4 separate regions of the Homo sapiens genome follow, and regions 1, 3 and 4 are each linked to region 2. A link means that fine-mapping ties the variant in region 2 to the plasma level of a protein whose gene starts in the linked region. Region 2 holds a variant in brackets. A gene starts in each other region. All regions are shown on their forward strands.

Region 1 (8,096 bases), not on the chromosome of region 2:
CATGGACAGTGTGTGATGGCACTGTCACCTTCAGCCCCGAGCAAGCACCTGTTGCAAAGGAAAGGAAAGTTGTGAAGACCTTGAGCCACATTTCACAATCTAAAGGGGCAAATGCAGAGAGAACCTGATCAGGTGATAATCCTTTTCAAAGAAGAGTGGCTTCTAGGTACTGACTATTCTAGTACTGGTTACATATAGAGGTAAATATTTGTCCCTGAAACCTTCTGCACTTAAAAAACTCCACCCAAAGACCGTGCTGGTTGCACAAGATAAAAAGGAAAAGCAGAAGTTATTTTCTACGATTGCTACGGAATAATGGGAAAAGGAGAACTAAGAAAGTTTACTACTTCTAAAGTCCAATGAAACCATTAAAACATTTGGAATTATGACTATATTAATGTCTGTCATATCATATCATAATCTAACTATGTGATTTGAGAAATACTAGAGGTTATTTCCTCCCAACAGTTTCCCTTAAAGCTGTCTGAAATGACTGAATATTCCATTATTGGAAGTTCTTCCTTTTAGCCAAATGCTTGCCAAATGCAAATATCCCAAGGAGAGTGGTATTAAACCATTATCAGTCATGACCAGTTATTTCCACCCAGAACAGGCATCTGGTTGGTGTATTTGAGAAACAGCAAGAGGCAGGTACAGATGGAGCACAGTGGAGGAGGAGGAGCATGATAAGATATGAGGTCAGTGAGGTGGCTGTGACAGACTGGCAGGACCTTAGGATCACGGGAAAAACTCTGGCAATTTTACTCTAAGATGGGGATGCAATAGGAGTTTCATGAACAGAAAAGGGCTATTTTTTTAAATGTTTTATTAGACCTAGTCTAGCTGCTGTGAGAATACACAGGAATAGGGCTAGAGCAGGAACAGGGAGAACACTTAGTTAGGAGGTGACTGCAATGTAATAGGCCAGAGACAACTGTGCTGGAAACTAGGGTGTTAGTAAAAGACGTTTTGGAAAAAGGCTGATTGTGACAAAAGGATTTGGTGACACTTTGAGGGTGTCAGAAACAAAGAGGATGCCAAGCTTCTTGACTCGGACCAACTGGAAGAAAGGAATTGCAGTAAATAAATTAATCATGGGGAAGACTGTGGGGAGAATAGTTTTTGTGGGGAAGACGAGGATTCAGTTTTGGGAGCGTTCATTTTGAGATGCCCATTAGACATCTAAGAGGCAATGTTGTGAAATCCTGATTAATGTGAATTTAAGAGAGAATGAGGGGCCTGAGAGGGCCTTGGGGCATGGAGCTCTGCCCAGTGGATAGCCCTGGGCAGTGCTGGGGATTTGTGGACCCATGCATTCACTGCTGTATCTTCATGTTTCTTCCCAGTTTCTGGCAACTGGAGATTTCCCCGTCTTACCTTAAGCCATGATATATTATTTTATTTTATTTAGCATTTCTATGTATTTGCAGGGGGAAGAGAGTCTTCCTTAGCTCAGGTTACCATGTTGCTGGAAGCTCTTTGCTTCAAAATCCTCATATTAAAAGGGGCAATATGATACCTACATCATAGGAACATTTGACGTAATAGAGGAGAGAGTGAGAGAAATTTAAATGTGGAATATTTTGAATGATGAGAGAAAAAATAGACAATGAAAAGAAACTGTAGACAATGAGTATAGACAACACTTTAGGGAAGTTTTGCTGTGAAGAGGACCAGAGAGATGGGACAGAAGCTGGAGAAGGATCAAAAATGTGAAATAAAGAGAGTTTTTTGCTATTGGGAATGTTTCACTGGAAAGGGAAATGTTGATGAGGCAGAATAGAGATGGGTGAAAGTGGAATAAAATCCTTAAGCAGGTGAGAAGAGATGGAAATTAGATATAAATAGAAGCATTTTACAATTTTAAATTTCTCAAGTACAAAATGTTCATCCTCTTTGATCGCTTCCACTTTTTCATTTTTTTCTACATTTTTTTGATTTCATTCTACTAGAAAGGGAGTCCTCAAGCTTCATCCAAGTCATGTCATGAAAGGCCATCAATTTTAAAAAGGGAAAGGTAGAAAGATCTGTTTGCCTTTTGTGATTATTTCCTTGGAAAAACTCAAAGATGTAGGCCTGTTCCTATGAGGAATCCAGTTCTACCAACAGTAAATTTATCTCCTTCCTTCCCAGAGTGGAGGTAGAAGCAAAGATTCCCACAGTTTGGGCCTTTGGCTAGCTATTAGTAGAGAGTGAGACTCTGGGGTTGGCAGAGAAGTTAGAGGAAAGAATCCAAGAGGAGAAAACACCAAAGAGGAAGATAGTTAGTTAGAGGGAGAAGAGACTCCTAGACTTGCAACTGAAACTTACCATATGGACTGAAAAGCAGATGACTGTAAAAGAAACATAAAGACATGTCTTATTGTCTCATTGGCCTCTGTGTGTTTTTGTGATTAACTTCTAAGAATTTTTTTTTCTTCTGATAATGGACCTACTTGCACACTTTGGTGATTGGTCCATAACAAAGCAGTTACAAAGATGAGAATTCCCTTCTGTATTCTTTTCTGCCAAGTGTAAGACTATTAAATCTGGAATTTTTCCTAATTTGAGTGATTAGAAAAAGAGAAAACTGGGTGCTGGGAATTCTAAAGAGGAGATAAAGTGGACTGCAGAAAAGAAGTAGTGGTTTTCGCAAGGAAATAGTAGGAGAGAGAAAGAAAGATGGGAGAGAGAAATCTATGTCTCAAAATTAGTGATGTCTAAGATATGTGAAGCAGAGGCTGACAGTCGGGGTGAAACTCTTAAAGTCATAGGTTTAGTAAGACATTGGGCCTTTGGATGGGAGATCAGCACAGGAAAAGATTCCTCTTTGTCTATCTGTTTTCTGTACAAAACAAAATGCATTTATATGTCTTTCATTGAAGTTGAAGATAGGCAGTTCCTGACAAGTTCCTGGTAAGCGACAACAAAAAAAAATAGGCTTAGTACCTGTTATTACTAACTTAAGATATGTAAATTGGACCTTTCACTGTATTAAGTGTATTGCTCCCTCCTTTTTTTTTACTTGTGTAAATATGAAAATATTTACAAGTGTTTCATGGCTCACTCCTGATCTTGGACTCCCATGTTCTATGTCCGCCATTGAGTCTTAAATTTATCACTTGCAAATAGCTCTAAAATAATGATTTTCAAGCACCTATTCTCTTAACTTGAAGATTACTGTGCTTGTTACTTTAATAAAGTTAAAGATCTACTGAAATATGAAGTCCTAGTAAAGGACACATACTTGGGGTAAAATGGTGATTGGTCAGTTATGTGACCTTAAATAAGTCATTTTAATTTTCAGACTCAGTTTTCTCATGTGTGAATAGGAGGTAATATCAGATAAGGTGTAAGGCCTTTCTCGACTCTCTTAATTTTATGTTATTGACAACCTGAGGTGCTTTTCTAAGGGTAGCAGCTACCTATATTTGAAGGTGAAGGGCCCAGAGAGTTTTGAGAGGACCCAAATTGAGAGAGGGCCTAAATAATTTTGAAGAATTGAGTCCCAGTTTTTGGTTCATATATTAAGTTGTCAATCCTTGGATATCCTTTAATAAAACAGCAATTCTGTGTTTTTTACAAAGAAATCAAGGGGAATGATGGAAGTCTGTATAATTGCCTTGGGAATGCACTGGAAAAAGCTGCATGGCTGCTAATAGGGAGCAGCTTTGTCATGGATGTGTTGGTTCACTTAGGACATTTCACAACTCAGCCTAGAAACCACCATTAGGCTGAGAAGGTCTGAATGGATTCTGACCCATTTTGTGCTTGTCATTTGGGAAAGCCATTGCAAAAGTCCTTCTCTGCTTTTTTTGTAATTGACTTCCTTTGTAGTTATATTTGAAAAGATTGAGATTTATTTAATATTCTGGAAATGGTTGGGAGGCACTATATTACTATGGGGTGACAATATTGCTGGAATAGAAATGTTGATGACTTTTGGATCTTGACCCAGAATGTTGAATCTTAAATATGAAAAGACTGGTTAGAGAGTCCATGACTAAAATTATAGGAGGAAAATTTTATTTAATGAAATATTAAATACAATACAAATATTGAAGCTCTGAGAAAAAATAACACTACATTAGTAGAAAAAGATATTTAATATAGCGTTTGTGATCATTATTTAGGGGAAAATTAGTTTTGGGGTCTATTTTAGACTGCATCATGTAATAATACCTTAAATAATATATTGCCATCAATATCTCTGAATAGGTTCAGTGCTTTCTTATTAAATGAAAAGTTTTTTTCAAATATGTATGCTTTTTCAAATGTTTGTGTGACAGTGAGAAATAGCACAGCTGTTACAGTAACTATTTGCTTAGAGATTGCCTATACAATTTTTTATCAGATAAATTATAGGTAGCAAGTTATAAGAATGTCAGCAGGGAATGAAATTTTCTTTATACAGTATCTTATCTCAGCCACGTAAAATCTCTTCATTGGACATGAACCTATCAATATGATACAATCTTTGCTTGTAGTGAAATTTGGGAATAAACAGATAATTGAATGCTTCCTCCACATTCTAGGAACACATACTCTCTTATCATTGATGTGTCACCCACTACAGATGTGATGAATTCATGCTGTCAAACACAGTAGTTTACTAATGTGAGAAAACTTAGCTTCATTTTGAGAAATTTTCAAGTGCTCTTTTCTAGTTGTATGAGAAAACCCAAAGGACTAAACCTATTGATTTTAGAAAATCATCCTCTGCATGAACAGATAAACTTCAAGAAAATAAATAATATAAAAAGGTTGGTTGTGGTGGCTAATGCCTGTAATCCCAGGCACTTTAGGGGACTGAGGTGGCAGATTGCTTGAGCCCAGGAGTTTAAGACCAGCTTGGGCAACACAGCGAGACCTCTGTCTCTATTTGAAAAAATACAAAAACAAAAATAATAAATAATATAAAAATTGATGAAATTTAAATTTATTTTTAGTAGTCCAAATATTTGGACTTAAACGGAAATTTAAATTCGATTTTATTATTATATTCACTATTACTTTCTGAGTATAACAAACAAAAACTCTTATAAATTATAGTTCTGTTAAAAAAATCTTGACTTTTTGCATATAAGGCATTACACAAATCTGGAGAAACATTTATAATACTAATCATAATCTGACATACAAAATTGCAGCAATGATCCCTCCTTTACAGACCCTCTTACATTGTATGACAATAGCACTATAAAAAAGTATCCAGTGTTAAGGTACACTTGAAGTCCTACTGTAGAATTTATCTATATTCCAGCAACAAAGGACTCCCTAGACCGGTTTCATTGTATTGAATATAAACATCAGATTTCACAAAGTGACCTCTGCTGTAGCTCAAAATAGCTGGCATTTACTTCCCTGTTATCATGTGTGGTATTAACAAGCATAACACAAGTATTGTTGACTGAAAATAAAATCTTGCATCTTTAGAGAAAATAGAAATTATGATGTGTTTTGAATAAACTGTACAAACTGTACATTTTAGGCTTCAAATTTTTAAAAATTTTTTAAAAAGAAGAAGCAAACAAAACTTCAATATTCCTAAAAGCAAAGATTGCCAAGTCATCTGTGGTCTTTACAACACACTGCCTATGGAGAAAAGCAAATTTGCAGAAGAGAGAAGGTCTTAAGGTATAAAAACTGCTTTAGCTATTTATGAACATGCTATTTTCCTAATGTACATTTGTTTTATTTTAGTTGAATTCCTTAACTAAATTGTCTCTAAGTTCTTCTTAACGCCAGTTTCAAAAACAACACTTATAAAATGATAGTAGTCCTACTGTTTTAAATATAAAAATAAGTGGGATGATGACCCAGGATACTTTCAAAAGGAAGACAAATGCACAAAGGTAGTGACAGTTATAATAATTATTTACTTTTTCAAAAAATTTTAGAAAACAAAAATCTATTATAGGCTTAAATTTGATAACATAAATACTGTGATAACTGGAACAATCACAACTCTGGGAAACTCAAAGACTTAAAAAAATTTACAAACTGTACATTTCAAATGTGTGAGATAGGTACAACAGTAGGTATGAATTTGAATAATAACATTTACAATGCAAACTTTAACAAAATATAGGAGTGAAAGTAAAGCTCTAAATAGCTGAAGAAGCCTAAAAGTTAAATTGCTTATTTTGCTAAGCTGTTCTTAATTTTTAAAAAATGTAGCCTTAATTGAACTCCTATCTGTTGAATATAAACAAAACAAGAAATTGATTTGACTTTTAAAACTGATAAATAGGAAGAATGGAAATGAGAACATCTGGTGAAAATAATGTTGACAGACAGCAGTTGGAATGCTGGAAAGAGACTCCTTTAAACTCAAAAGATAAAGAGGAGAATGAGGGAAAATATTAAGGTAGAAAAAAATTCTTAATAGGACTAGCCATTGGGCAAAGAGAAAAGCTAAAGGCATTTTGGAGTAACAATCTTTTCAAATACGTTCTCCCTTTTGTGTAGGAAATTTTTTTGTTAGTTTGGAATCTTACCTTTCTTCCATATTTCATAAGATGAGACAGATAACTTAAAACGAAGCAGTAAACAGTTTGCAACAATATCTTTAATTAAAAAGAAAACAATTTTCGTAAATTATTTGTAGTTTCACTCTAAGTGGTCACAATTTCATGGCCTATTAGAATATTTGCTGAAATAAATGCATTAAAGACTATTGAACCTATATGTAAACTCTAAAAGAAGAAATTCATTATCTTTTAAAAATATCTGAATTATCTTAATGAGTGCTATGACAATAATTGTTGTTCCAAGAAAACAATAACAATCTATTTATTGAAACTCATTTCTCTTAAATGTTCCTGCTTCTTTGCTGTAACAGTGTGTTATTGTTAAAAGGTTCTGACCTGCTCTTCAATTATCTGAATGCATCTACAGCCTAAAGCAAATATTTACCTTATGTCCACAATTAAAAAAAAAAAACCTAACAAACAGCTAAAACACAATTCACACAGGGCCTTACCGAAGAGAAGGAGGTATATTTTGCACTGAAAGACCCCAAGTGTGTCACCGAAGGGCTCCATGAAAGCATCCTGTCCCATGCATGCAGTGCCCTGTTCTCAGTGGTAACTTGGACCAGCAGCTGCTGGTTTATTTGCTAGGGAAATTAGCAGTGAGGTAACAGACCCTATCTTGCCTCTTGCTTCTGTGATTTGAATACAGAATGAATGTGTATACAAAGGACACAGGGAGTGGGAACACCTGTTATGTGCTTAGCAAGAATACAGGCTTATGGCTTTCAGAAGAGTTTCTTAGCAACTACCAGTAATTGTCTATATATTTCATAAATTATACTTAGTTATTAAAAAATCACATGAAGGAAAACATCCTTTTGCGTGACTTTACTGAAAAATGGCATGTTTTCATAATGAAAGAATATTGTGAGATTTCCTTAAAAACAAAAGCTGGTTTTCTATCATGCAGAACTATGCCATTATTATTTTAAAATTAAAAAAAATTATATGAAAATTGAAGTAGCTCATGTATCTGCTAAACAGTTATAAATCTTCATGAAGTCACTAACATGTAAAAATTCTACCAATGAATCAAAAGAGAGATCCAGAATATATTTAAAACGTATTTTTTCTATGCAGTGTTTCCTATTACAATGACTGATTTCATTTAATCTTTGAATTCATCTTATTTTTAAAAGCAAATCACAGGTGTGTTTCCAACTGGGACTGAGGCATGGACCATGCATAATTATAATGAAAAGTGCATGCCAGGAGATAGTATCTGAGGCCACATTTTCACAGCTGATGCATAGAGGAAGTGAACCAATGATCTAGAAAAGATCTTACCTCTACTGCAGTGTCCAGGTTACAGGTTTTCAACCTGGTCTCTCCATTGTCATGGCAGCAGATAGTCTAAGCATGTCCGCTTAATTTACTAAGTTATTAGTTAACCCCTATTTGCAAGAAGGCTCTGGTTCTAGCCTTGTTATATAAAATGTTAAGGATATATCCAAATCTGCATCAAATCATCAAATCAAGGAAAATTCCTTGCATGCATCAGTTTTAACAGTAAAGGCCCACTGAAGAAGTTCAATGATAAGAGGGGAAGGAAGACTATACCTCAAGCATAATTAAAGTAAA
Region 2 (8,099 bases):
GGGCCTTTTCCTAGCTCGCTGACTCTGGTAGACAAAGCCAGCCCTTGGCCATGTGAACGAGGAAAAGAATCCTGGGATTTCATGAGAACTCGGGAAAAGGCTTGTATCTTTGGGCAGCTCGAGCCTGTGGCTGCCCTGGTCTGCCCTAGGCCTAGGCTGTGGCAGGGCCTCCCCGCCTCCCGTTTCCCGGCTTAGCTCCCAGGGCCTCCCAAAGGTTTCCTTTGCAGTGGGTTTGGGTCCACCCCTTCAGGCGCCAGCCCCTCAGTGGCAGAGTGCCGGTGACGGGGCCCGACTGAGGGGAGCACTTCTCCACAGGCCCGTGAAGGTGGAGCGGACCCGGAAGCGGTCCGAGGGCTTCTCGATGGACAGGAAGGTAGAGAAGAAGAAAGGTGAGGCCTGGCTGCCCAGCACTGCCCACACTGAGTTCACTGAGGGGAACGGGGACAGCCGTGGCGTGGCTGGCCTGTCCCGCCTGTCCCTAGAGAGGGTGCTCAGCACATCCTCGGCCGGCCTGGCCGGCGGTGCCTCCAGGGGTGGGGGCTGAGCCTGCAGACCTGGGGCCCCCATGACAAATCCTCCAGAGGCTCTCAGGCTCCTGCCCTTGAACAGCTGGCCCCCTGTGGCCCTGCCTGGGCCCACACGGTGCTCTCTCTCCTGGCCCAGAGCCCTCCGTGGAGGAGAAGCTGCAGAAGCTGCACAGTGAGATCAAGTTTGCCCTAAAGGTCGACAGCCCGGTAAGACCCTCAGGGCCTGTGAGCCAAGCAGTCCCCGCTGCCACCTCCCTGCCAGGCTCCCTTAGATGTCTCGGGAAACTGAGGCAAAGCCGGGGTCCTGCAGTTGGGTGGGCCAGGAGTCTGTTCCGGTTGCTAGTGAGCGCATGGGGTCTCCTGGCCAAGGGCCCTGGGGGAGCTGGTCCTGACATGCAGCACCCAGCTTTCCCGGCAGGTGGTGTGTGGAGGCCCCCAGGACCAACCCCCACGTACCTGGGACCCCAAGTATCTGGCTATCCCTGGAGTTCCCCGTCAACTGGACGGGGGCTGAGGGGAGCTGTTCTGCAGATACAGCTCCCCTCAAGGAGAGCCCAGGATGTCTTCCTCCACCCATCGGGGCCCTGGGACCCCTGGGGATCCCTTGGCCAGGCCGTCTCCCTCACTCCCACCCCACCCTGCAGGACGTGAAGAGGTGCCTGAATGCCCTAGAGGAGCTGGGAACCCTGCAGGTGACCTCTCAGATCCTCCAGAAGAACACAGACGTGGTGGCCACCTTGAAGAAGGTATGGCGGGGGAATCAGAGGCGCAGGGTGCAGTCGGGGGAGCTGGGAGCAAGTGCCTGCCCGGGAGCCCAGGCCCCCAGCAGGTTCCTGTCGGGACAGCCCTGGGTCAGCGAGGAGGCCGTGGGCTGCTGGGTAGAAATGCCTGGTGCTTGCCAGGAGTGGTGGCTCACGCCTGTAATCCCAGCACTTTGGGAGGCTGAGGCAGGCGGATCACGAGGTCAGGAGATCAAGACCATCCTGACCAACATGGTGAAACCCCATCTCTACTAAAGATACAAAAATTAGCCAGGTGTGGTGGCGCACGCCTGTAATCCCAGCTACTCAGGAGGCTGAGGCAGGAGAATCGCTTGAAGCTGGGAGGCGGAGGTTGCAGTGAGCCGAGATCGCGCCACTGCACTCTAGCCTGGGTGACAGGGCGAGACTCTGTCTCAAAAAAAAAAAAAGAAATGCCTGCTGCACAGAGCTGTGCTCCCGGGAGGGGCTGCGGGAGGGGCGCATTGCTGGGGCGAGGGGTTCAGAGCCGGGGCTAGGGCCGCTGCACTTGGGTGAGCCAGGCCTCTTCTCTTGGTGGCCAGATTCGCCGTTACAAAGCGAACAAGGACGTAATGGAGAAGGCAGCAGAAGTCTATACCCGGCTCAAGTCGCGGGTCCTCGGCCCAAAGATCGAGGCGGTGCAGAAAGTGAACAAGGCTGGGATGGAGAAGGAGAAGGCCGAGGAGAAGCTGGCCGGGGAGGAGCTGGCCGGGGAGGAGGCCCCCCAGGAGAAGGCGGAGGACAAGCCCAGCACCGGTGAGGGGCGGGTGGGGTGGGCCCTGTACCTCAGTCTCCTCAGCTGAAGAAACAGATGCTTTGCAGAACATTCCAGAAGGGGAGTACAGCTCTACTCTCTGCCCCAAACCTGCCAGAGTGTCATGTCCTGTTGGGGTCTCCGTGCAGACCCGGCTTTAATCCCTGGGGCAGCCAGTGAGGGGCATTCAGGTCCTACCGTGTGCCAGGCAGCCAGCATGCAGGTAACTTGGGGCTCACGCCAGAGGGGTGACGGGGACAGTGCATGACAGCACACGCCTCCACCGTCTCCCACCCTGGGACGCCCAGAGAGGGGGGTGGCTCTGTGCAGCGGGGGCAAAGAGTGGGGGCATTGTTCAGAGAGGCAGTCGGTGGAGGCTCGGGGGCGGAGGCCTCAGGTGCCCTTGCTTGCCTGGTGGGCCGACAGGAGATGAGGTGTGACCCTCGGGGCTGCTGGCTGTGGGGCTACTGGGCTGACATGGCCCCATTACAGGTGCTCAGAGCAGCCCTTTGGAGATGGGATGGGCGAGCTTGGGATGGGGCTTTGCGGCCCAGGGGGCAGCCGAAGGCTAGTGTCTTTTTTTTCTTTTTTCTTTTTTTTCTGAGATGGGGTCTCGCTCTGTCCCCCAGGCTGGAGTGCAGTGGTACAATCACAGCTCACTGCAACCTTGACTTCCTGGGCGCAAGCCATCCTCCACCTCAGCCTCCTGAGGAGCTGGGATTGTAGGCCTACACCACTATGCCCTGCTAATTTTTTTTTTTTTTTTTTTTTTTTTTGAGACGGAGTCTTGCTCTGTCCCCCAGGCTGGAGTGCAGTAGCGTGATCTTGGCTCACTGCAAGCTCCGCCTCCTGGGTTCACGCCATTCTCCTGCCTCAGCCTCCCGAGGAGCTGGGACTACAGGCACCCAACACCACACCAGGCTAATATTTTGTATTTTTTAGTAGAGATGGGGTTTCACCGTGTTATCCAGGATGGTGTCAATCTCTGGACCTCATGATCCGCCCTCCTCGGCCTCCCAAAGTGCTGGGATTACAGGCGTGAGCCACTGCGCCCTGCCAGGACGTGCTAATTTTTGTATTTTTTGTAGAGACAGGGTTGCTGGCATGTTACTCAGGCTGGTCTTGAACTCCTGGGCTCAAGTGAGCCTCACGTCTCGGCCTCCCACGTGCTGGGATTGTGAGCCCCCGTGCCCGACCTTGTCTTCCTTTGTCTTTCCCAGGCTGCTGTGGGCTTTTCTCAGGGCTGCCCACGTTCCCTCATTTCTTGGGCCCCCAGTTCTGCAGGCCAGTGTGGCTCGGGCTGGGGCTGGCTGCAGCATCCCATGTCAGGAGCTTGCAGACTGGACAGCAGGTGCTGGGGTCCAGGTGGATGGGCATGTGTCACCCACGGCGCTCAGCTTGGCCCCTGGTCCAGTCCTTGACAGGCAAGGGTTCTGGGGTGCCCAGCTGGAGCCCAGCAGTGTCCTGTGACCCCTCTGTCCCACCCAGATCTCTCAGCCCCAGTGAATGGCGAGGCCACATCACAGAAGGGGGAGAGCGCAGAGGACAAGGAGCACGAGGAGGGTCGGGACTCGGAGGAGGGGCCAAGGTGTGGCTCCTCTGAAGACCTGCACGAGTGAGTGTCCCGGGCCGTGGGGTTTGGACTCCTGAGCGGCAGCGGTGTGACGCGCACCCTGGGTCCGAGCCGCTCCTCCTGTGCCAGTCCCTCTGGGATGGGTCCCAGGGATGTCGTCCTTACTCGGGCCTCCCACCTTCACAGCTGACCCCAGGGCCCCGCTGGCTGGCACTTCCGGCGGCCCCTACAGAGAGGCAGCTCCAGGGCTTTGAGCTGCCTGCCCCTGGCCTCCTGGGAAGGTGGCTTCTTGCCGAGCCTCCAGGGTGGCCCAGGTAGGTAGGCCCCGAGCACGGGCACCCGGCTATCTGACGGTGCCTGTGCCCATCACTGTGGGCTGCTGTCTGGTACAAGGCTCAGTGGAGTCACTCACTTACCCAGCAGCTGCCTTGTGCTATGCCTGGCTGGCGCCAGCGTGGGGACCCTGGAGATGGTTGTGGTCTCTAGTGGCAGAAGACAGGCAGATAGGAGGGCGGCACTCGAGCCTCAGGTGCCACAACGGGGGTACACTCCTCGGTGCCCATCCCACCCAACCGCCCTACAGGCAGGGCAGGGGCGGGAGGGCATCCTCACACCGCCTTTGCTGTTCCCACCAGCAGCGTACGGGAGGGTCCCGACCTGGACAGGCCTGGGAGCGACCGGCAGGAGCGCGAGAGGGCACGGGGGGACTCGGAGGCCCTGGACGAGGAGAGCTGAGCCGCGGGCAGCCAGGCCCAGCCCCCGCCCGAGCTCAGGCTGCCCCTCTCCTTCCCCGGCTCGCAGGAGAGCAGAGCAGAGAACTGTGGGGAACGCTGTGCTGTTTGTATTTGTTCCCTTGGGTTTTTTTTTCCTGCCTAATTTCTGTGATTTCCAACCAACATGAAATGACTATAAA[T/C]GGTTTTTTAATGAAAAAAGAAATCACTTTTATTGGCTTGGTTTTCTAGCATTGCTGGTGCAGTGGGGGCCTGAGCTGGGGCGCAGGCGGCAGTGTCACTGGGCCCGTTTGGGACTGGGTTGAGCCATCAGGCCACCGTGAGAAGCGACTAAAAGGCACTCTGGGCCCAGCCCAACCCTGAAAGGCCAGTGGCAGGAGAGCTGGGCGGGAGCAAGCTCTTCCCAGGAGACAAGAGGGACAAACCAGGGCATCTAAGCTGTGCTGCCTGCGCCCTGCCCCGCACCCACGAGGCTGGGGGGTTTGATGCTTCCTGCATCTGGCAGCCCAGGGTCCAGGCAGGTGAGCAGGTCCGATGTGGGGAGGACGAGGGTCCGCGAGGCTAGGCTGGGAGGGTGGAGACCAGGCCTTCCCTGAGAGCCGCTGCTAGCCGACAGTGGTCTCCAGCGTTCAGGGAGCATGGGCCTCAGGGGCCAGCCTCGACTCACCCCAGCTGTGTCACCCACACACCGTGTGACTTTGGACAGGTTCCCCTCCCACTCGGGGCTTCTCTTTCCTCCTCTGCATAAGGGGCTGTCACGTGGGCACGGTCCCAAGCAAGTCACCCCGTGCTCCGAAGTTGCTCATTCCACAGTGGCGTCTCGTGTTTGTCGTCCTGCCCAGCGTAGCCGAGTTGCCTCCGTCCCAGTAAGAATTAGGCTGTGGTGTGGCGGGAAGGGACTTCCTGAGCTGCGGCCCCATGCTTGGTTGGCTGGACGTGAGCTGCAGTCACTGTGCCTGATTTCTGCAAATGGCTGTGTCTGGCATCCTAGCCTCCGATGGCCATGGGTGTCGGGCTGAGGAGAAGGCTTGGGAAGGCTCCTGACCCGTCCCCTCTCACGGCCCGTCACCTGAGGCAGTCCTTGCCGTGCCAGCTTCCCCGGTTCAGAGCTGAGCTGAATGCCCCGGCCCCTCACGGCCCCTGGTGCACACGGTGACCCCTGGGGCCCCTCCACCCTTCCTCCCCCTGGGTCTGGGGTTCCTGGGCTCGTGTCCTAGGAGAGCATGGAAAGGGGACGACAAGGTTCTCTTACCGGGTGAGTGGGGATATGGCTTCCTGGGGAGGCCGGGCTGAACGGCTCCTCCCCGCTGGACTGAGCGCAGCCACGGCACGTCTCACACCCGACCTGAGCCTGCCAGCCTCCACGACCTGGGCTAGCCTGAGAGCACGGGGCCCGGCGGCCGGGTCCGCCACCACCAGTGTCTCTGATGCCTGCAGCCTCCCCAGCCCCGCTTCCTCTGCAGCCCGGCGCTTGGGTGGGCCTGAGGACCCAGGGGGAGTGTGCGGCGGAGGAAGGGCTGTGCCATAGGCACGCAGCCTCTGTGGCTGTTCCCAGCCCTGTCTGATCCCTCCATAGGGCACAGTTCCCTGCGGGGAAGTCCTTTGTCTGTGTTCTCCAGGGGCAGCTGCTGGGCCCAGCCTCCCCAGGGGCCTCAGAGCCCCAGGTGCCTGGGGCAGGCCTGTGGTGGGCAGCTGGAGGCAGCAGCAGCCTGTTTGCTTGTTTTTTGCACCCCCCACCCCCTGCAAACTGCTCAGTCTCAAGCCAGGCTGGTGCAAAGCCCCAGCTGTGGCTGCTGTGGCTCCTGGCAGCTTTGTCCCCACCGTGAGGCCACCCCGGGGGTCAGCAAAGGCAGTAGCAGCCTGCCTTGGGATGATGATGGCAGTGTCGCTTTTTCTAGTACTTTCTACTATGAGGGAATGTGGTTCTTAAGACCCTCAAGGTGTGTGTGCTAAGGCCGGAGACCCACTTTCAGCATGAGAACGGAGCTGCCCGGAGCCTGGGATGCCACAGCACTGCCTGCACCGCTGATAGCTGGGGGCCCGTGCTGCAGGACTGGAAGAGCCCTGCTAGATATAAAAGGGTTGCTAGCGGGGCAAACAGATGCCCTTCCAGGCTGGGCACGCTGCTTTTTCTCTTTCCTAATTGCAGTGCTTGCTTGGGGACTTCAAGGGAAGGCTCTTGGCTGGTGGTCTGAGTGACCCCAGGCTCCGAGAGGGGCAGGCAGCGCTGGGGAGGAGGTGGGAGATGCAGGCAGGCCCGGAGCAGGGCGTGGGGTGGCTCAGTTAAGAAGGTCACTGCCTCCGCAGCCCCTCGGCGCTCAGCCAGCTGCAGCCCCAAAGGTCTAGGGCTTTAGGGAACCGATCCAGGTTTGGGGGCGGGGAGAAAGTTCTGAGGCAGCTCCTCCCTGGACAGAGCAGGGCGACCCCGCGCCGGGCCTGCAGGCTCCTACAGCTACTGCCCGCCAGCGGGCAAGGCGAAGGGCCCTACCAGCCAGCTGAGCGGGGGATTGTGCTGTAGGCCCTCCAGCAGCTGCTCTAACCCCTGCCAAGCCTGGTGCACACCCTCGCGGCTCTGCACCAGCCGCTCTGCGGGCAGCTCCTCTACAGAGCCAGCTGAGGCCACGATGCCATAGAGCTCACAGAGGCTGTGCCGCGCCCGCCCCACTGGCTGCTGGAGCTCGGCGGGCAGGCCCTGGAGGCTGGAGACCAGGCCACTGTAGGCCGTGTGCAGCTGCCGGAGAAGGCCGCAGACCCTGGACAGAACCCCGGCATCCCGCTCCTGTGGGAGGAAGGCGCAAGGTGAGTGGAGACCCATGGGCGGGGTGGGGGGACCCTAGCCCTGTGCCAGACCCACCTCCTGGACAGCAGCGTCCTCCGCACTGGCACCTGAGCCCTGGTCCAGACGTGGCTGCCCTTCTGGAGCCTGCTGGGCCTTTTCAATCTGGAGAGAGAGTACAGTGGGGAAATGATGGCTTCTTGGCAAATGACCTTTCACAACCCCCACCTCCCCCTCCCCCAGGGACCTGGGCACATTCACAGTCCTGGGAGAAAGGCCACGAGTTCCAAGTCAGTTGTACCACAGTGGGCGTGTTGTCTTGCAGAAAGAGGCAATAGTTCAAACTTCCCCATGAGGTCATCAGGGAGTGCACGTAACACAGTGTCTGTGGGGTCGTGTCACTCCTCACCCCTAAACCTGTGGCTGCCCAGTACCCTTAAGATAAAACCCAGCTCCTCACCATGGCCTTGGTGGGCTGGCCCCTGGGACACCTCTGGCCTCATCTCCCATGGCACCCCACTGCTGTCTCCACTGAGGCCACACTGGCTCCATTCTGCCCTCCGGCCACTCCAGCAGGCTTCTGCCCCAGGGCCTTTGCACACACTGCCCACTCAGCCGGGAGCCTGCTTCCCGGGCCCTTCACAAGGTCCGCGTTCGGCCTCAGCTCCAGGTGACCCTTGGTGAGACCTTCCTGGCCCATGGTGTGGCAGCCCCAGTCCCTCCCGTCACATCTGCCCCTCTCCTCGGGAGCACAGCGTGCGGCTTTGGTGTTCATTGACTTGGTGTTTATCCGCCCCTGGCAGGGGAACACTCAGGACTCTGTCCTCGTTGTTGCTGTGTCCCCAGCACGTGGCACCCACGCCCCACCCTGTCCACAGGGCCCCATCTTCCTCATCATCTCAATGGCTGGTAGGGATGCGGCACGCCGTCAAAATATCGACTCCAGACTGCTGTCGCCC
Region 3 (8,105 bases), not on the chromosome of region 2:
TCAAACTACTAGGCTGGAGCAATCCTCCTACCTCAGCCTCTCCTGTATGTTTACCTTAAATCACAGAGTATGAGTGGCAAACATAACATTGTAAAATAATGCAACCATGAGTCTCATGCTTGATCACAAGGGCCATGATGTAACTTTCCAGTCATAAAGGTTACAATTTTCTTTATAAGCTTAATGCACAGGCTTCAGTAAACACCAGTCTGGAGTACAAAGATAACTGGGAATTTATCAACTCAACTTTATCAAAGTACTCACATCGTCTTTATCATTCACTGGCACTCCAAGTTGCAACAAAAATTCAACAATTTCTGTATGTCCAGCTGAGCATGCCCAGTGCAATGCAGTTCTGCTGTCCTACAGAGAAGCAGTAATAGAAACATTCTTGAAATAGAAGGCAAAAAAGCAAGAAAAAAAATACTGGTGCTGGCAAATCTATAGTTTGAAAATACGAAATGCAGAGCACTGGATCCTCAGGTAGGTAACCTTAAACTATATTACTTACTGGTATAAGACAGATGAAGGTTTAAGTAACATGGGGAGAATGACATTGATGAACATACGTAATTCTGGGCAGAATACGACAAGGAAAGTAGTAGAGCAAGAAACTGATTTCAATGCTTTGACAGAAATACATCTTTGGTTGTTTTACTATTACATTATTTACGTACTTTTATGTCAGGCACTGTGCTGGGAGTTTTACATGTATAGTATCATTTAATTCCTACCATTCTACACAGTGCTTATTATCTCCATTTTTCAGATGAGGAAACTAAAACTCCTCAGGGTAAGCAACTTGTGGACGGTCATATGGATACTAAATGGTGAAGTTGGGGCACAACTGTCAGTGAAGTTCTGACTCTGAAATCTCTACTACCACACTGACCTCAAGTTAGATGCTGTAGAAGGAACACATGAATCTAATGGGGGAAGAAATGTTCATTAAACTAGTTGAAATTATCTAGAATTTAAAATCATAAATAAATTAGAAATATAATTTAGAAAACACAACACACAGAAAACAAGAAAATTACTTTTTATAAAAAATAATAAGCTATGGCCGGGTGCGGTGGTTCACGCCTATAATCCCAGCACTTTGGGAGGCTGAGGTGGGCAGATCACCCGAGGTCAGGAGTTCTAGACCAGCCTGGCAACATGGTGAAACTCCGTCTCTACTAAAAATACAAAAGTTAGCCAGGCGTGGTGGCAGGCGCCTGTAATCCCAGCTACTTGGGAGGCTGAGGCAGGGGAATCGCTTGAACCCGGGAGGCAGAGGTTGCAGTGAGGTGATACGGCACCACTGCACTCCAGCCTGGGCAACAAGAGCGAAACTCTGTTTCAAAAAATAAATAAATAAAAATAAATAAAAATTAAAAAAGCTATAGTAGTCATTATTTGTCAAAGGGAATCCCTATTTGCAGTGACTGCTATACTTCTTAGCCCCACAGAATAGAAAATGGTATTTTAAACTCTATTACAAAAAAATTTCAAACACAAAAATAGAGGGAATAGAATAGAAACCCACAGGCCTACTGCTTAGATTTAACAACAAACATCTTGCCCTATTTGCTTTAACTAGTTTTTTCCTTGCTGAGCTTTCCAAAAACAAATCCTAAATATCATGACTTTTCACCCTTCTCTTTCAGTATGTAAAAAATAAAGGTATTTCTTATATAACTATGAGACCATTATTACACTTACTAAAATTAACACTAACTCCTTTAGAATGTCTAATATCCGGTCTGTATTCAGATTGCCCCCAACTGTCTCCCAAATGTCTTTTTGCAGTTGGTTTGTTTAAATCAGGAACCAGACGAGATCCATAAATTGCATTTCTTCATGTTTTTTACGTCTCTTGATGCTGAATAGTTCCTTTCCCTTTTTAAGCCACTGACTTGACTGAAGAATGGTTAAATTTCCAATGGAGTATTAAATCTTAATATAAAGTATTACATTTAAATTTAAATCCTTAAATATCACCAGACCATAATGAAGTAAACCAGGTAAAGATAAGGCCATTTTCAGGTTGAGTAATAAAGGAAAGTTCCAGAAAAGAGAAAACAGTCTCTTGATTTCTAATTCTCTCCCAAAAGACACAAAATGGAGATCTGTAAGTATGGGACAGTCTCACTAGTGCTTACGACACTGTCTGCGAAACACAAGGCCATCTATAAATATTTGTGGGCTTACTAAAGGCACCATGAATCCTAGAAACTGAGGATGAAAGCACGAGAGTCCTGTGAGCAGGAGGGCAGAAAGAAACACTTCTAAACTTCTGTCTACCTCTGCTTAGAATGTCCACTCATTCCCCCATGGAAATCCCACTCATGCTTCAAAGTCTAACTAACCTTCCCTTCTTTGCAAAAACTTTTCCAATTAACGACAGTCATATTCAGCATCAGATCCTCCTATTAACGTGTTCTGAAAGCACCATGTAAACTTCTCTGCCGAGTATTTACCACAATTTGTAATCGGACATGTTTTTGTGCTTATTTTATTGTCTGCATCTTCCACTCCACCGTATCCCCAGCTCCTAGCAAACTGCCTGGCACGGAAGGGGCGTTCAATTTCACATGCGTTACTGAATACAGTTACTAGTAAAGGTAAATAAATCCATATAAAAAGCCTTCCTTTTCACTGATTGGGAGTTTCTGAGAAATGCGGTAGACGTTCTAGAACTATCCAAAAATCAGGGAGCGGAGCTCCGGGCCAACGGGAAAATATCTGAGGTCTGTGGGGCTAGCTCCCGCAGGCCTATCGCGAGTCCCGAGGTGACCCAGGGGGACTGCTTGGGGCGGCGGGGGCGGGGTTCTGCTTCTCTCAGAAACGGGGCCTCCGCTAGGGCCGGGCCCCGAAAGCCACGTAGGGCTTCGCCGACGTCGCCGACTGCGGAGAGACCTAGCGTTGCTTTACCTGGTCAGTTCTAGTAGCCAGGGATTTATCGGCCAGAATACTCTCCTTCAACTCTTCCAGCTTCCCGCTGTAGGCCAGGTTGCAGACCATTAGGTTAGACACACACCCCTCCATTTCGCTGTCCCAGCAACTACTTGTCGCGCGAGCAACGCCCGCCTCACGTCGCCGGCTCCGGCTACGCCAGTCAAAACAGCCGTTAGAGCTTCACCAATCACCGGCCTTCCTCGTTCCCTTTTCTTTTCCCGTCGCGCGGCGCCTCTGGGAGTTGCAGTTTGAGAGCAGTTCCGGGCAGGGAGGCGCCTTTGCTGCCCTCACAGACTTGGCCCCTAGCAGTGCAGAACTACAAGTCCCAGGGATCCTAGCGACCGTCCGTCCGTAGTCAAGTTGCCGGTGGAATTGGCCCAGGATGACAGCTGGAGAATGGAGTCAGGTACGGGGAGCGGCTTTGAGTGGAACCGTGTGAAAGAGCCGGGGTGGGTAGTCGCTGGCGGGTCGTTGAGTCGGCCATATGAAACAGGTTCGGGGGCAGGGCAAGAGTTATGAGAGCCTAAAGGTCCTGTCCCCCGGGGTTCCTGACCTGCAGTGGCAGGCGGAAGGGACAAGGGTTGGAGCTGAGTACTACCTACTGAGCTCGAACCGGTGACTGTGGCTACCCTCCCCCTCCCTGCCACCGCCTAGGGAGTGGAAAGAAGTGGGGGTTAATTACTCTGACATCTCGGCGGTGTGGCATCAGGACAGGGTTCTACCACAGCAGTGATAGCATATGGCACCGTACTGAGGTGATGTGCCAGGGTGATGCCAAAGGCAGGGTGTGATGCCGTGGGAGCCACCTGATATCTAAGAGACCTCGGTGAGTCCATAGCCTGGTGACATCACAGCTTGATGAGGGTCATCTTAAGGATACCGGGCTGTGGTGTTGGCATTTTAATATCACGATATTAACTATGTTGTCAAGGCTTTGCTACAACTATTAAGCTAATAGTGTTTCTTTTTATAGAAATCCCAAATAGTGCCATAGCAGAAGCAATGCAAGACTGATCCTTTATAGGGCATATCCAGAGGACATTATGCCACAACTAGGTAACGATAAGAATACATTCAAGAAAGAGACTCATGATGTTTATGTTTATCCTGTTATAGTGTAGAACAGGAGTTGGGAAACTTTCTGTAAAGAGCCAGATAGTAAATATTTTAGGCTTTGTAGGCCAAAAGGCAAAATCAAGAATATTTTGTTGGTACTTTTATGACAAAAGAGAAAACAAATTTCAACAAATTTTTATTGATGAAATTCAAAATATAATAGTAATTGAGTACTTTTTTTGTAATACAGGAAGACTACCAATGAGAAGAATAGAATTCTTTTTAGGGGATAATATTTTGCTTAATTGGGGCTCAGAATTAGTGTTCCCTATTGTCAAAATTGATTTTAAGTGTTCATCTGTTAATGCTGATCTGTTAGGAAATTTTTACCTATTTAATCTTTGAAAATGTCATTTTACATAGATAGGTACTGCCAAATACTGATATCAATTCATAAACATATACTTTTTTATTTTTATTTTTATTTAATTTTTCAAAAATTTCAGAATAGTTGTAGATTTATAGAAAAGTTGCAAGGTTAGTAGAGTTCCTGTATAACACTCACTCAAAATGAGGCACATTTTACATATCATAAAATTCACTGATTTCAAGTGCATAATTAAATGATTTTTGGTAACTTTACTGAAGTGGGGCAACCATCACCATAAATCAGTTTTAGAACTTTTTGATCCCTCCAGTAAGGTCCCTCATGCCTATTTATAGTTAATCAATCCTCTGTCCCATTCCCAGCCCCAGACAACCACTAATCTACTTTTTTGTTTCTATAAATTTGCCTATTCTGGACATTTTATATAAATGAAATCATACAATATGCAGTCTTTGTGTCTGATTTCTTTCACTTAGCATAATATTTTTGAGATTCATCCATATTGTAGTATGTATCAGTACTTCCTTACTTTTTTATTGCTGAATAGTATTCCATTTTATGGATATAACACATTTTTATCTGTCTACTCACTATTAGATAGGCACATCAGTTTCCAATTTTTGGCTACTATGACTAGTGCTGCTAAGAAGATTAGTATGTAAGTCTTCGTGCGGACATATTTTTTTCATTTCTCTTTGATAGATACTTAAGGGTGGAGTTACTGGATCACAGGGAAAATTTATGCTTAACTTCTTAAGAAACTGCAAAACTGTTTTCCAAAATGGCAGCAACATTTTGCACTTCCACTAGCAATGTATGAGAGTTCCTGTTTCTCCACATCCTTGCCAACATTTGTTATTTACTGTGTTTTTTGTTATAGCCATTCTAAGTGGGTGTGAAGTGGTGTCTCATTGTGGTTTTAATTTATAAATTATAATTTATAATACGGTGAGCATATTTTCATGTGCTTATTAGCCATTCATATATCTTCTTCAGTGAAGTGTCTGTTATATCTTTTGTCTGTTTTTAAATTGAGTTATTTGTTTTTTTAGTGTTGAGTTGTAAGGATGGTTTATATATTCTAGATCAAGTCCCTGAGAGATATATGATATGCACATATATTCTCCCAGTCTGTTGCTTGCCTTTTTCTTTTTTTGATGGTGTCTTTTGAAGTGAAAACGTTTTGAATTTGGGTGAGGTTCAATTTATCATTTTTTTTTCTTTCATGGACCATTCTTTTGGTGTTGTACTTAAGAAGTCTTTGCCTAATTGCAAGGTCTCAGTGATTTTCTCCAATGTTTTCTTCTAAAAGCTTTATTACTTCATCTCTTACATTTAAGTCTATGATTCATTTTGAGTTCATTTTTTCTCTGTGATGTGAGGTGAGAGTCTAAATTCATCTTTTTGCATGTGGATGTAGAAATTGTCCTAGCACCATTTGCTGAATCTCTTATCATTAACGTCTTACATTGCTATGCTATCTATGTCACAACTAATAAGCCCACAGTGGTATATTGCTATTAACTATACCCCATGCTTTTTTTTTTCAAGTTTCACTAGTTTATCTCTAGAGATGCTGTCCCATCCAGGATACCACATTACGTTTAGTCATTGTATCTCCTTAGCCTCTTCTGGTTTGTGACACTTTCTCACACTTTTCTTGTTTTGGTGACCTTGATAGTTTTAAGGAGTACTGGTCAGGTATTTTGTAGAAAACCCCTCAATTTTATGCTTAGACTGGCATTATGTGTTTGGAAGAAAGTCTGCAGAGGTCAAGTACCACATTCTTATCATACACTATCCTCAAACATGATTTTAATTGAGCATATTCATTGCGTGGAATAGAATTCTGTTCTTCTCTTAATAGTGCCTTTTAGCATTATGTGGCAGGTTAATCACTTCCAATTGAAAGTTTGGTGAAAGCTGCTCAATTGCACAGTTAAAGGGATTTTGGAATATGGAATATCCTTTGCACTTGCTTCAGGGTTCAAAAACTGCTGCTGGAACTGTAGTCTGAATTCAGAAAATATATATGCTGCAAATTCTTATGGAAATAGATATCTTGCTTCTTGTTTTAACTTTTATTTCATTTTATTTTGAGACAGAGTCTCACTCTGTCACCCAGGCTGGAATGCAGTGGCACGATCTTGGCACACTGCTATCTTTGCCTCCCAGGCTCAAGCGATTCTCCTGCCTCAGCCTCCTGAGGCGCATGCCACCACGCCTGGCTAAGTTTTGTATTTTTAGTAGAGACAGGGTTTCGCCATATTGGCCAGGCTGGTCTCTAACTCCTGACCTCAGGTGATCCTCCCAAAGTGCTGGGATTACAGGCATGAGCCACTGTGCCCAGCCTATTTTATTTTTTATTGAGACAGGGTCTTCTTCTGTTGCCCAGGCTGGAGTGCAGTGGCACGATCACGGCTCACTGCAGCCTCCACCTCCCTAGCACAAGCAATCCTGTCATCTCAGCCTCTGGAGCAGCTGGAACTACAGGCATGCACCAACACACTCAGCCAATTTATGATTTTTTATAGATACAGGGTCTCACTATGTTGCCCAGGCTGATCTCGAACTCCTGGGTTCAAGTGATCCTCCCACCTAGGTCTCAGAAAATGCTGGGATTACAGGTGTGAGCCACCATGTCCAGCTGAGATTTCATTTATTTCTTCTGGGTACTTAACTAGGAGTGGAATTGCTGGGTCATATCGTAACTCTGTTTAAGTTTTTGAGAAACTTTCAGACTCTTTACAAGAGTGGCCGTACCATTTTACCTTCCCATCAGCAATGTTCGAGGGTTCAGATTTATCCACATTTTTTTTCTTATTTTCTTTTCTTTCTTTTTTTTTTTTTTTTGGAGACAAAGTCTCACTCTGTCGCCCAGGCTGAAGTGCAGTGGCATGATCTCAGCCCACTGCAACCTCTGCCTCCCAGGTTCTAGTGATTCTTGTGCCTCAGCCTCCTGAGTAGCTGGGATTACAGGCATGTACCTCCGTGCCGGCTAATTTTTGTATTTTTAGTAGAGACGGGGTTTTGCCGTGTTGGCCAGGCTGGTCTGGAACTCCTGTCCTCAAGTGATCTGCTCACCTTGGCCTTCCAAAATGCTGGGATTATAGGCGTGAGCCACCACATCCAGCCAAATTTCTCCATATCTTTACCAATACTTATTAATATCTATCTTTTTGATTATAGGCATTCTAGTGGGTATAAAGTGGTATTTAATTGTGGTTTTATTGTTTTGACTTGTGACAGCATGGGAAGTGGATAAAGCATCTTGACATTACTTGTGATTCAAATAATATTGTCAAAATGACTTTACTACAGTTTTTTTCATATATAAGCATTGTTTTGCCTTGTAATTTTAGGTTGAATTAATTAATAAACATTATCCAGCCTGCATCAAAAGTTAATTTCCAAAGCCATTCAGTGTTCCCTAACAGTGTTTGAAGGTGGTTCTTCCAACCATTTAAAATTATGAGAATCATTCGTACCTTGCTTGCCACACAAAAACATGAGATGGGCTGAATTTAGCCTGCCAGTCATAGTTGGTATAGAGCAGAAGTGCCCTGCATATTCAATAAATACTTCTCTAGTTGATTATGGAGGTACAGTATCCCTGTGTTGTGGTATTCACAAAGTATTGGGTATAGTGACCTTTCACCATAAAAATGCATCAAGTACTTGGATCTGATTGGTAGAAAAGCTGGAAAAACAATTCCAA
Region 4 (8,097 bases), not on the chromosome of region 2:
AAAAGAGAGAAATGAAAGACAAAAGAAATGATTGAAGAAATTAGACAAATTCAGGGAACTAGAGAACTTTAAGGATTTGGAGAGAAGAAAACTCATAAGGAAAGGTTTAGCAAAGAGAAGAAACAGGGGAAGACTCTTCTAGTCCAGACTCCTCATCCATTGATCCCAGGAAACAAACACACTACAATAATCAAATGCAAGTCTCTCTGAATCATCCACCCTCTAATATCTAACACTCTTTTCACCCTCAGTCCCCCTGATATCTATTCATCCCATTGTAGGCAATATAATTTATCCTGAGCATATTTTTTCTTTTTATCTCTGTGCCTTCCCTGAAAGTATCCATTTACCCAAAGAGAGGCCCCCTCCCACTCTTTCCCCATCAAAAAAAGAGGGCAGAGGGGTGCATTTACTTTTCCCAGATTCTAATTGATAGTGTCAACACATTCTTTAGGTTCCCTTGCACTGGAAATGCATGTCTATCTTATATGTTCTTATTCCCAAATCCTCACCACCATCCACCAACTTCCTGGGACGCACTTCCAACCTCCTACTCAGTTTCAGCTCATCCTTCTGGTTTTCCTCTCAGTCCTGGCAGTTTTCCTCTCCAGCCTCCATCTGCAGGAACTTTACTTCCACTGCCAATTAACTCAGCTCTCCTCTTCTTCCAGCATATCCTTTGTACTTACCCACTTTTTCTCTTATGCACAGTGATGAAGCCCTCTCTCACTTCTCACCCCACCATCCTACCCCTTTCATTCCACCATCATCCATCATCTCCAATCATCCATCTCTAACATCCCACTTGTTCCAGGTCAACTTGCTTGCCATGGTTCAAGGTTTCAATGGAGAAGCAAGAAGCAAGAGATCATTGTGAGAGAGGGGAGCTCCGGCATGGTGAGAGGGAGAGGGTAATGTTGACAAGGAGTCATTGGGAGACTGAGGTTTTGGAGGTTAGAGAATGAGAGTGATGGACAAAAGAATTGAAATGCAGGAGATGCTGAAGAGATGCTTGTGGAGGAAAACACCATGCATAGGATAGAAACTGAACATTTGGAGGAAGCAACAAAGATGGAGCTTGCTAAAAGGGACAAGTTGGAGAGAATGGAGTAATTATGGATACATGGAGAAGCAAAGAAGATGGAAATTAGATAAAGAAAAAAATGCAGAAAGGGACCAAGAGAAACGGAAGAAGGGTACCCAAGGCAAGGCAACAGGAAACAGTGAGAGATGAGCAAACCCAGGCAGCTCCCGCCATCCTGCCTCTTTTACTCCCCCATCATCTCCAATCATCCACCCGTATAATCCCACCTGGGATGGTGCAAATCAGTTGTTCCACAACTACACAGGGTTTGGAGCAGTCATGGTCATTTTAGGCACAGAGTCACCCACTTGCACAGAGCATCTTCCACCCTGCTTTCCTCACCCAGTATTCTCCGAAGTCGGTTTTTGTTCTTTGTGGCAAGCTCCTGAAAAGAATTATTGGTCTCTTTGGCCCTTCCACAGGCAAAGCTGAAGAAGTCGGTGCAGGGGGCCACACTTGTGTTCCCAGAGGCCAGGTAATGATCCCGGAGATCCAAACACACAGATGTCTCACAGGGGCCTGTGGGGAAAAGCTCAGAGCTGGGAAAGAAGAGGCAAAAAGACAAGGGCTCCCCCAAGGGGCTAGGCAAAGAACATCAGGTGAGTAACTAAGTGGGGAGCTGATGAAAAAGAAATGGTTAGGATGCAGGGAGGAAGAAGAACCATGGGGACCCCAAGGGTCAGGGTGGGCAGAAGCCCCAGGAGCAGGGACTGGGCCTGGGCCCCAGGGCTGGGGGAGGGCTGACTAGGTTAGGGGGTCTGGGATCTTGCTTACGAGGGCCACAGTTCTGGAAGTTGTAGAACAAAAGCACAGAAAAACAAAGGAGCAGGCCCAAAATCAGGATAGCTGTCAGCACCCGCCTGGCCACTGCCCATGGCCTGCTCCCTTCCACGGGCAGCCTCTCTTCTGGAGTGCTCTGTGGGAGGAACCAAGAGGTGAAAGATACAAGATGGGGGTTGAGAGACAGGGATGGGAAGAAGAGGAGAGAGAATGAATCTGTTGGTGCTACAGTCCCTTTATACAGAAATAATTATCCCAATTCTTCCTAAACCCAGCCCTACTTTAACTCCTGGGAGATGAGAAAACAAGGAATGTCAACTGTTTTGGGTGAGGATGAAGCAGACAGTTAGTAGATGAGTGTTTGTGGGATTTTAGAGCCGAGAGTGACAACATCAGTGTATTCCAGACCCAGGAGAGGAGGCCACTTACCTCTTGGCTCCAGAGAGTTCCCATTCCACCTGCCTGGCTGCGTTCCCTCGGCTCTTCCTCACTTTGGTCCCCACCTTCCTGAAGTGAGTGGAGGGAGAAGGAGGAGAGAGAAGCTGGTTCAGGAAATGGTGCATTGAAGAGAGTTTTATCAGGCCATTTTGATACCCTCGCTGCCTGCCCTGCCCCCACACACATATTTTTATCTCGGAGCAGTGTTCCCAGATGGGCTTCAGAACGAACCTGTCCCCTGAATGTGCCATTTCTCGATCCCTCTCCCATTACCTCCCTCTCTCCCCACCTTTCTACTCTGTAAGCCTTACATTCCCTCCCCTCCAGTGGGGGCAGGACTTTTGCACACAGCCACCCTCACCCCTCCCCGCTAAGCCTCTGACTCCAAAAGGGGACTTACCATCTGTCTATCTTCTGTGGCTCCAGAATCCTTCCTGGTTCCACTCTAGGAGCTGATTCGGAGGACTGGGGTCCAGGAAACACCCCCCGCCCCAGTTCCTTGATCCTGGAGAAGGGGCACTTCTGCTGCTCTTTCGCCTTGTCCCCAGACACACAGGACTGGCCTCTGGGTGGAGCCTGCTTATCAGTGGGGGGCACCCAGGCTTCTCCTCCCCCTTTATCTCAGCTTCTCAGGGGAGAAGAGGGAGGGAGTCTTCACTCCCCAAGCAATCTTGCCCTTGGTCTGCTCCTTTTGTCTTGCACTGTGACTCTGCCCATGAAGTTCCTTTATTTCTAAAATATTCTTCCTTCTCTCATTTCTTCTGTATTAAAAAAAATATGAGGCACAGTAAAATTTTAAAGAGTTTATTTAAGTAAGAAGCAATTCATGAATTGGGGAGCACCAGACCGACAAAGGTTTAGTGTTGCGATGACAAAATGTCAGAGGCAAGCATTTATTGGGAAGTTATAGAAGCAAAATGAAACATTATTTGCTTAGTTTGCAGTTACATAATTGCATTTTTTAGGTAACTTTTTGGAAAGTCCCTAGTCACATAATCATATGTTAGTTGGCTGCTTATCATTGGCTGGGGTTAAGTTTTATTTGTTGTAAGCATTTATCAGAAATTGACCCAAGTTAAGTTTAATTTATGTTTGTAGTTTTAGCAAGAATATGGCTATTTTTAAGGTCTTTGGCTTTGTTTGCCTGGGAATTTTTCAGGCCCAGTCTCCATTTTAATTTTGTTTTCACACCTCTCTGATTGGCTTTTCTGGGATTCATCAATTCCCAGGTCAAATGCCACCTTTCCCAGGAGGCCTCCCAGCTCCATGCCCATTCACACTGTTCCCAAGCATGCTTAATTGTTTCTCTCGGTGTTTCATAGCTCTGCTGGCTGCTGGCAAAGTCATGCATTCAAAAGATCACCCAGCTAGGAGACCCTAATCTGCTAATTATTAGCTCTGTGACAATAAACAAGCCACTTAAACTCTGAGGCAGGTAAGCAAGTTTTGTCATCTGGAAAATGAGGGTAATACTTGCCTATGCCTACCTCATAGGATCTCATGCCTTCTACAAAAGAATAAGGCTTTACTGAGCCCCTCTTTCTTTCATTCTGCTTTCTGTTACACTGATAGCTTGCCTCTTCATCTCCTTAGTGATTGAAAACTATGTCATAGCATGTACAGTGTCTGGTTTTCATTCCTGCCCACCCAAGATGCTTTCTAAATGTTAATAGAAATGAATTGCATTCCAAGCCAGAAATCCTCTTTCTCACATCATATTAAGCCCTTACCTGTGGTCTGAGAGAGGCAAGCACATTTCTGGGGGAAGGTGTTTCAACTCTGTCCTTGTTTCCTCATCCCAGGAAAAAAATAATGTAATTTATTAGGTTAGTCTTGCAAATGATCCCCTGGCGATATTTCCAGATTCCATCAGCACTGTGCTAGGGCCATGGTGCACTTGCCAGGATGAGGGTGGGTGTGGAGAAGTGGAGTAAAGCCATTGTGCCCCCTGGGGCCAGCTGGTCGGGTATCATGAAAGTCATAAAGAAAAGTCAGAACTTCATACATTAGAAAAGAAAGCATTGGGAAAAATAAGGCTTTTGAGGAAAGGTGTGGCAAGATACAATAATATCTAAGAAACGCCGGTGTGGTATTGGGGATCTGGACTGATTGGATAAAAGACAAGAAACAGAGTGGTTAGTTTGGTGTTGCAGGAGTGATGAAGGGAGGGCCCGGCCCAAGGGGATGGCAGAGGGGAGGGAAGTGCGTAGAAAGAAAAATTGTATGGAATAAAGTCATGGCAATGGATTGAATGGAGGAGGGGTTTATGATAGAGCCACAGAGGAGCTCCAAGTTGCATTTCTGCATGACTAGGGGAATAGTGATGCCAGCGAACAATGGAATTTTGATTAAGGGGGGAGTAGGAATCAGAGTGAGGGGAAAAAGCTGACTCAGGATTCTAGAGGTGTTTGGTCTGTGTGGGTACACCCTGATGGTGCCTCCTCTTCAAACTTCCCTTCCACAGAAAGTCCAATACTCTCCCCATGGGCTTTTAGCTTCCTTCACACATATTCCCTTCCTCACTCCTTTTCTATCAATCAAAGCCCCTGAGCTGATGTTTCCCTAGGAAGATGATAATGGAGACCACTTAGATTTGATAAGAGAAAGTTGAAGATGGAGTGTGCTCTGTGACATTTGCCTATGGACAGCCACCACAGCCTGGACTTAGGTTCTCTCCCTGTCAGAGAAGCTGAGCCAGCCACAGGGATAGGGCAGCACAGCTGCCAGGTCCACCATTCCTACTCAGCCTCCTCCTGAAGGCCAAGCAACCTCCATCCTGGGAGCTGTCTCAGGAGCAGGACTTCTTCTTATCACCCATATCCTACTCCATGGTGAGTCATCACCAGCACAGCCATACCCAGTCACGGGAGTGCAGCAGCCTTCACTCAGATCTAAGCCCCGAGAAGAGGTGTGTTAACAGCTGTGGCACATGGACCACATTTATCTTTTCGGATGCTGCCTCCTTCTTGCCCTCAATTGTCCTGTCTGTTTATTTTAATTCCAGGAGGTTTTGTTTCATGCCATAATAGTATCAAAATAAAATATTGGTAATAATAAAAATAACCACTTTTTACGGAGCACCTTCTTTGTGCTAGGAATGTGCTAAATGTTTTGCTTGTACATTTTCCTTCAGTCTTCACAGCAACTTTCTGAGGGAAATAACAGCTTTTATTTTCCCCATTTTATAGATGAGCGGTCAGAGAGATATGAAAGTACAGTGAACTTACTCAAAGTTACAAAATTAATAATTAGCAGAACCGAGAATTGAACCAAAGCCTTAACCATTGAGCCTCTCAGTCACTAAGTATCTGTTTTTTGGAAGTTTCTTCATAGTAAACATCTTCCTTCATCTAAACTCTTCTTTTTAAACTATGTTTCACTGCTTGGCCTTGTGAGGTGACAGTTTTGGGGACTAGTATTCTCAAACTCTCTAACATCCAGTTTCATCATCTGAAGATCATGGCCTTTGCCACAATGTTCTATCCATAATCAGCTGCCATCTACAGTGGATGTGGTATCAAAATCAAGGACAGGACATTAATCTGTCTATTGTGACACTCTCAAGTGTGCACATGACTGGCAATTTGCTTCTAAGATCACTCGATTGCAGTGATAGCCACTAAGAAGCTACCCCCTAAAGAACAATAAACCCAGTTCTGAGTGAACCGAAGTAAGCCTTGACATCACAAGCAATGTTGAGGACTTTGCCCAGAAGATGATGGAGAAACAGATCATGGGGGGCAGGTTTTGGGGTGCACTGATTGCTCTTTCAAAGGAAGCAATACTTGAGAATTGGGGAGCTCCTTTGGGAAAGAGTAGCTTGTAAGTTCAGTATACCACAAAGTGGCTTTTGAAATAATTTAAGTGATAAGTAGATGGACCTCTTTCAATATGTGTGTGTGTGTGTGTGTGTGTGTGTGTGTGTATATATATAAATATATATTTATATTATATATATTATATATATATTTATATTTATATTATATATATTATATATATATTTATATTATATATATATTATATATATTATATATGTAATACATATTATACATATAATATATATAATATATATATATATTTTTTTGAGACTGAGTCTCGCCCTGTCAGCAGGCTGGAGTGCAGTGGCGTGATCTTGGCTCACTGCAACCTCCGCCTCCTGGGTTCAAGCGGTTCTCCTGCCTCAGCCTCCCGAGTAGCTGGGACTGCAGGTGCACGCCACCATGTCCAGCTAATTTTTGTATTTTTAGTAGAGACGGGGTTTCACCATGTTTGCTAGGATGGTCTCGATCTCTTGGCCTTGGCCTCCCAAAGTGTTGGGATTACAGGCATGAGCCACTGCACCTGGTCCAATATTTTCATTTTTATATACATTTTTCTTTTATAGATATATGACTCTAAGAAGACTAAAATACATAGCCTCTGTATTTTTATTAAATCAACTAAAATATACTAAACAAATAATAGCTGTATTGGTACTTGAATATGTCAAAAACTTGAAGAAAATGCTCAGAAGTCTGGAGTTTTAATTATGTATGGGTAGAAACAGCTCAAAAGGAGGATCTTTGTCCTTTTTTATTTTCTTTTTGGTATTTTCTACATGCCACCACATTTTTCTTCCTAATCCAACAGGTTTTGAAGATAGTACTCTGAATACAGAGACTCTAATAAGTTGTGTCAATTCAACATATGTTTCCTCAAGAAAATTTACATAAGTTCTTGCTAAAACCAAGGTCTTAGTCAACTACTACCATAATAATGCTTTGTTACAAACCACCCAAAACTCAATGGTTAGAGGAACAAGCATTTATTCTTTTTTTTTTTTTTTTTTTTTTTTTGAGACAGAGTTTTGCTGTTGTTGCCCAGGCTGGAGTGCAATGGTGCAATCTCGGCTTACCACAACCTCCGCCTCCCAGGTTCAAGCGATTCTCCTGCCTCAGCCTCCCGAGTAGCTGGGATTACAGGCATGTGTCATCACACCTGGCTAATTTTGTATTTTTAGTAGAGACGGGGTTTCTCCATGTTGGTCAGGCTGGTCTCGAACTGCTGACCTCAGGTGATCCGCCCGCCTCGGCCTCCCAAAGTGTTGGGATTACAGGCATGAGCCACCGTGCCCAGCAAGCATTTATTCTTATGTTTAAATGTCTCACTTGGAACAATGAGAAACAAAAGAATGGGACAAGCTGTGTGGTCTCCCTCTTAGCAAATGTACCAGTTACTTATTACTCCATAATAAACAACCCCTTATTTGGTGGCTTAAAAAAAATTGGCTCTCCATTCTATGGATTGGCAAATTAGGAAGAGCTGAAGTATCCTCTGTGCTCATTTGCATCTTTGGTTTCACATAGCAGGCCATTTCAGGGCTACCTAGTCCAGGATGGTCTCACACACATGGTTCTTGGTTGGCTGGGGCTGTTGGCCAAGGTGCCTCAGATCTCCTCCATGAGGCCCCTCTAGCAGGCTAGCTTGGGCTAGTTCCCATGGCAACTAGATTCTAAGAGAGCAAGAGTAAATGCTGCAAGGATCTGGAGACCTAGGCTTGGAGTTATACAATATCACTTCTGCCATATTCTATTTGTCAATTCAAGTCCCAAGGCCAGCTGAGATTAAAATAAACTCCACCACTTGAGGGGAGGATTTGCAAATAATTTGCAGTCATGTTTAATATGCCACAGGAGAAAGACAGTTTTCCTTTGAAGCAACCTATCATGAACAGATCACTGAACCCGGGAGTTGGAAAACTTGGTTTTCAGTCCTACATCAGTTTTAAAGTAGCTGGGTAATTTTTACCTACTTTT

Which allele goes with the higher level. Alleles are on the strand shown, and positions count from the first base shown. The strength of an association depends on the size of the effect and on how common the allele is.
As copies of T replace C in region 2, the plasma level of the protein whose gene starts at base 7,066 in region 1 goes up (moderate association).
With allele T in place of C in region 2, the plasma level of the protein whose gene starts at base 3,291 in region 3 is lower (weak association).
In carriers of allele C in region 2, the plasma level of the protein whose gene starts at base 2,862 in region 4 tends to be lower than with T alone (weak association).

The links. PIP is the chance, under the fine-mapping model, that this variant and not a neighbour inherited with it causes the effect. Protein levels are from antibody-based Olink assays in UK Biobank. Linkage for the fine-mapping came from a reference panel and not from the study's own genotypes, which makes the PIPs less certain.
Region 1: it holds the start of HEPACAM2, and the variant in region 2 is fine-mapped to the plasma level of the HEPACAM2 protein (UK Biobank, PIP above 0.99).
Region 3: ATG4A starts here. The variant in region 2 is fine-mapped to the plasma level of the ATG4A protein (UK Biobank, PIP 0.97).
Region 4: it holds the start of KEL, and the variant in region 2 is fine-mapped to the plasma level of the KEL protein (UK Biobank, PIP above 0.99).

Annotation. Positions count from the first base shown.
Region 1 is chr7:93,219,404-93,227,499 of GRCh38, forward strand. HEPACAM2 (HEPACAM family member 2) reads right to left here and starts at 7,066. Exons shown (of 10, transcript NM_001039372.4): 1 at 6,965-7,066; 2 at 1-48. The coding sequence starts at 7,043.
Region 2 is chr19:4,497,643-4,505,741 of GRCh38, forward strand. HDGFL2 (HDGF like 2) reads left to right here. Exons shown (of 16, transcript NM_001001520.3): 11 at 316-389; 12 at 664-734; 13 at 1,172-1,273; 14 at 1,849-2,062; 15 at 3,549-3,675; 16 at 4,269-4,565. The coding sequence ends at 4,368. PLIN4 (perilipin 4) reads right to left here. Exons shown (of 8, transcript NM_001367868.2): 7 at 7,219-7,305; 8 at 4,550-7,143. The coding sequence ends at 6,817. Among named protein-coding and RNA genes, the nearest start is that of PLIN4, 17 kb to the right of the region's middle. The variant T/C (reference allele first, on the strand shown) is at 4,547.
Region 3 is chrX:108,088,488-108,096,592 of GRCh38, forward strand. It overlaps ATG4A (autophagy related 4A cysteine peptidase), which reads left to right and starts at 3,291. Exons shown (of 13, transcript NM_052936.5): 1 at 3,291-3,349. The coding sequence starts at 3,340. PSMD10 (proteasome 26S subunit, non-ATPase 10) reads right to left here and starts at 3,055. Exons shown (of 5, transcript NM_002814.4): 1 at 2,920-3,055; 2 at 265-363. The coding sequence starts at 3,033. RefSeq lists enhancers at 2,804-3,203, 3,254-3,493.
Region 4 is chr7:142,959,502-142,967,598 of GRCh38, forward strand. KEL (Kell metallo-endopeptidase (Kell blood group)) reads right to left here and starts at 2,862. Exons shown (of 19, transcript NM_000420.3): 1 at 2,703-2,862; 2 at 2,294-2,371; 3 at 1,859-2,000; 4 at 1,427-1,603. The coding sequence starts at 2,705. RefSeq lists a silencer at 2,626-2,821 and a cis regulatory region at 4,944-5,345.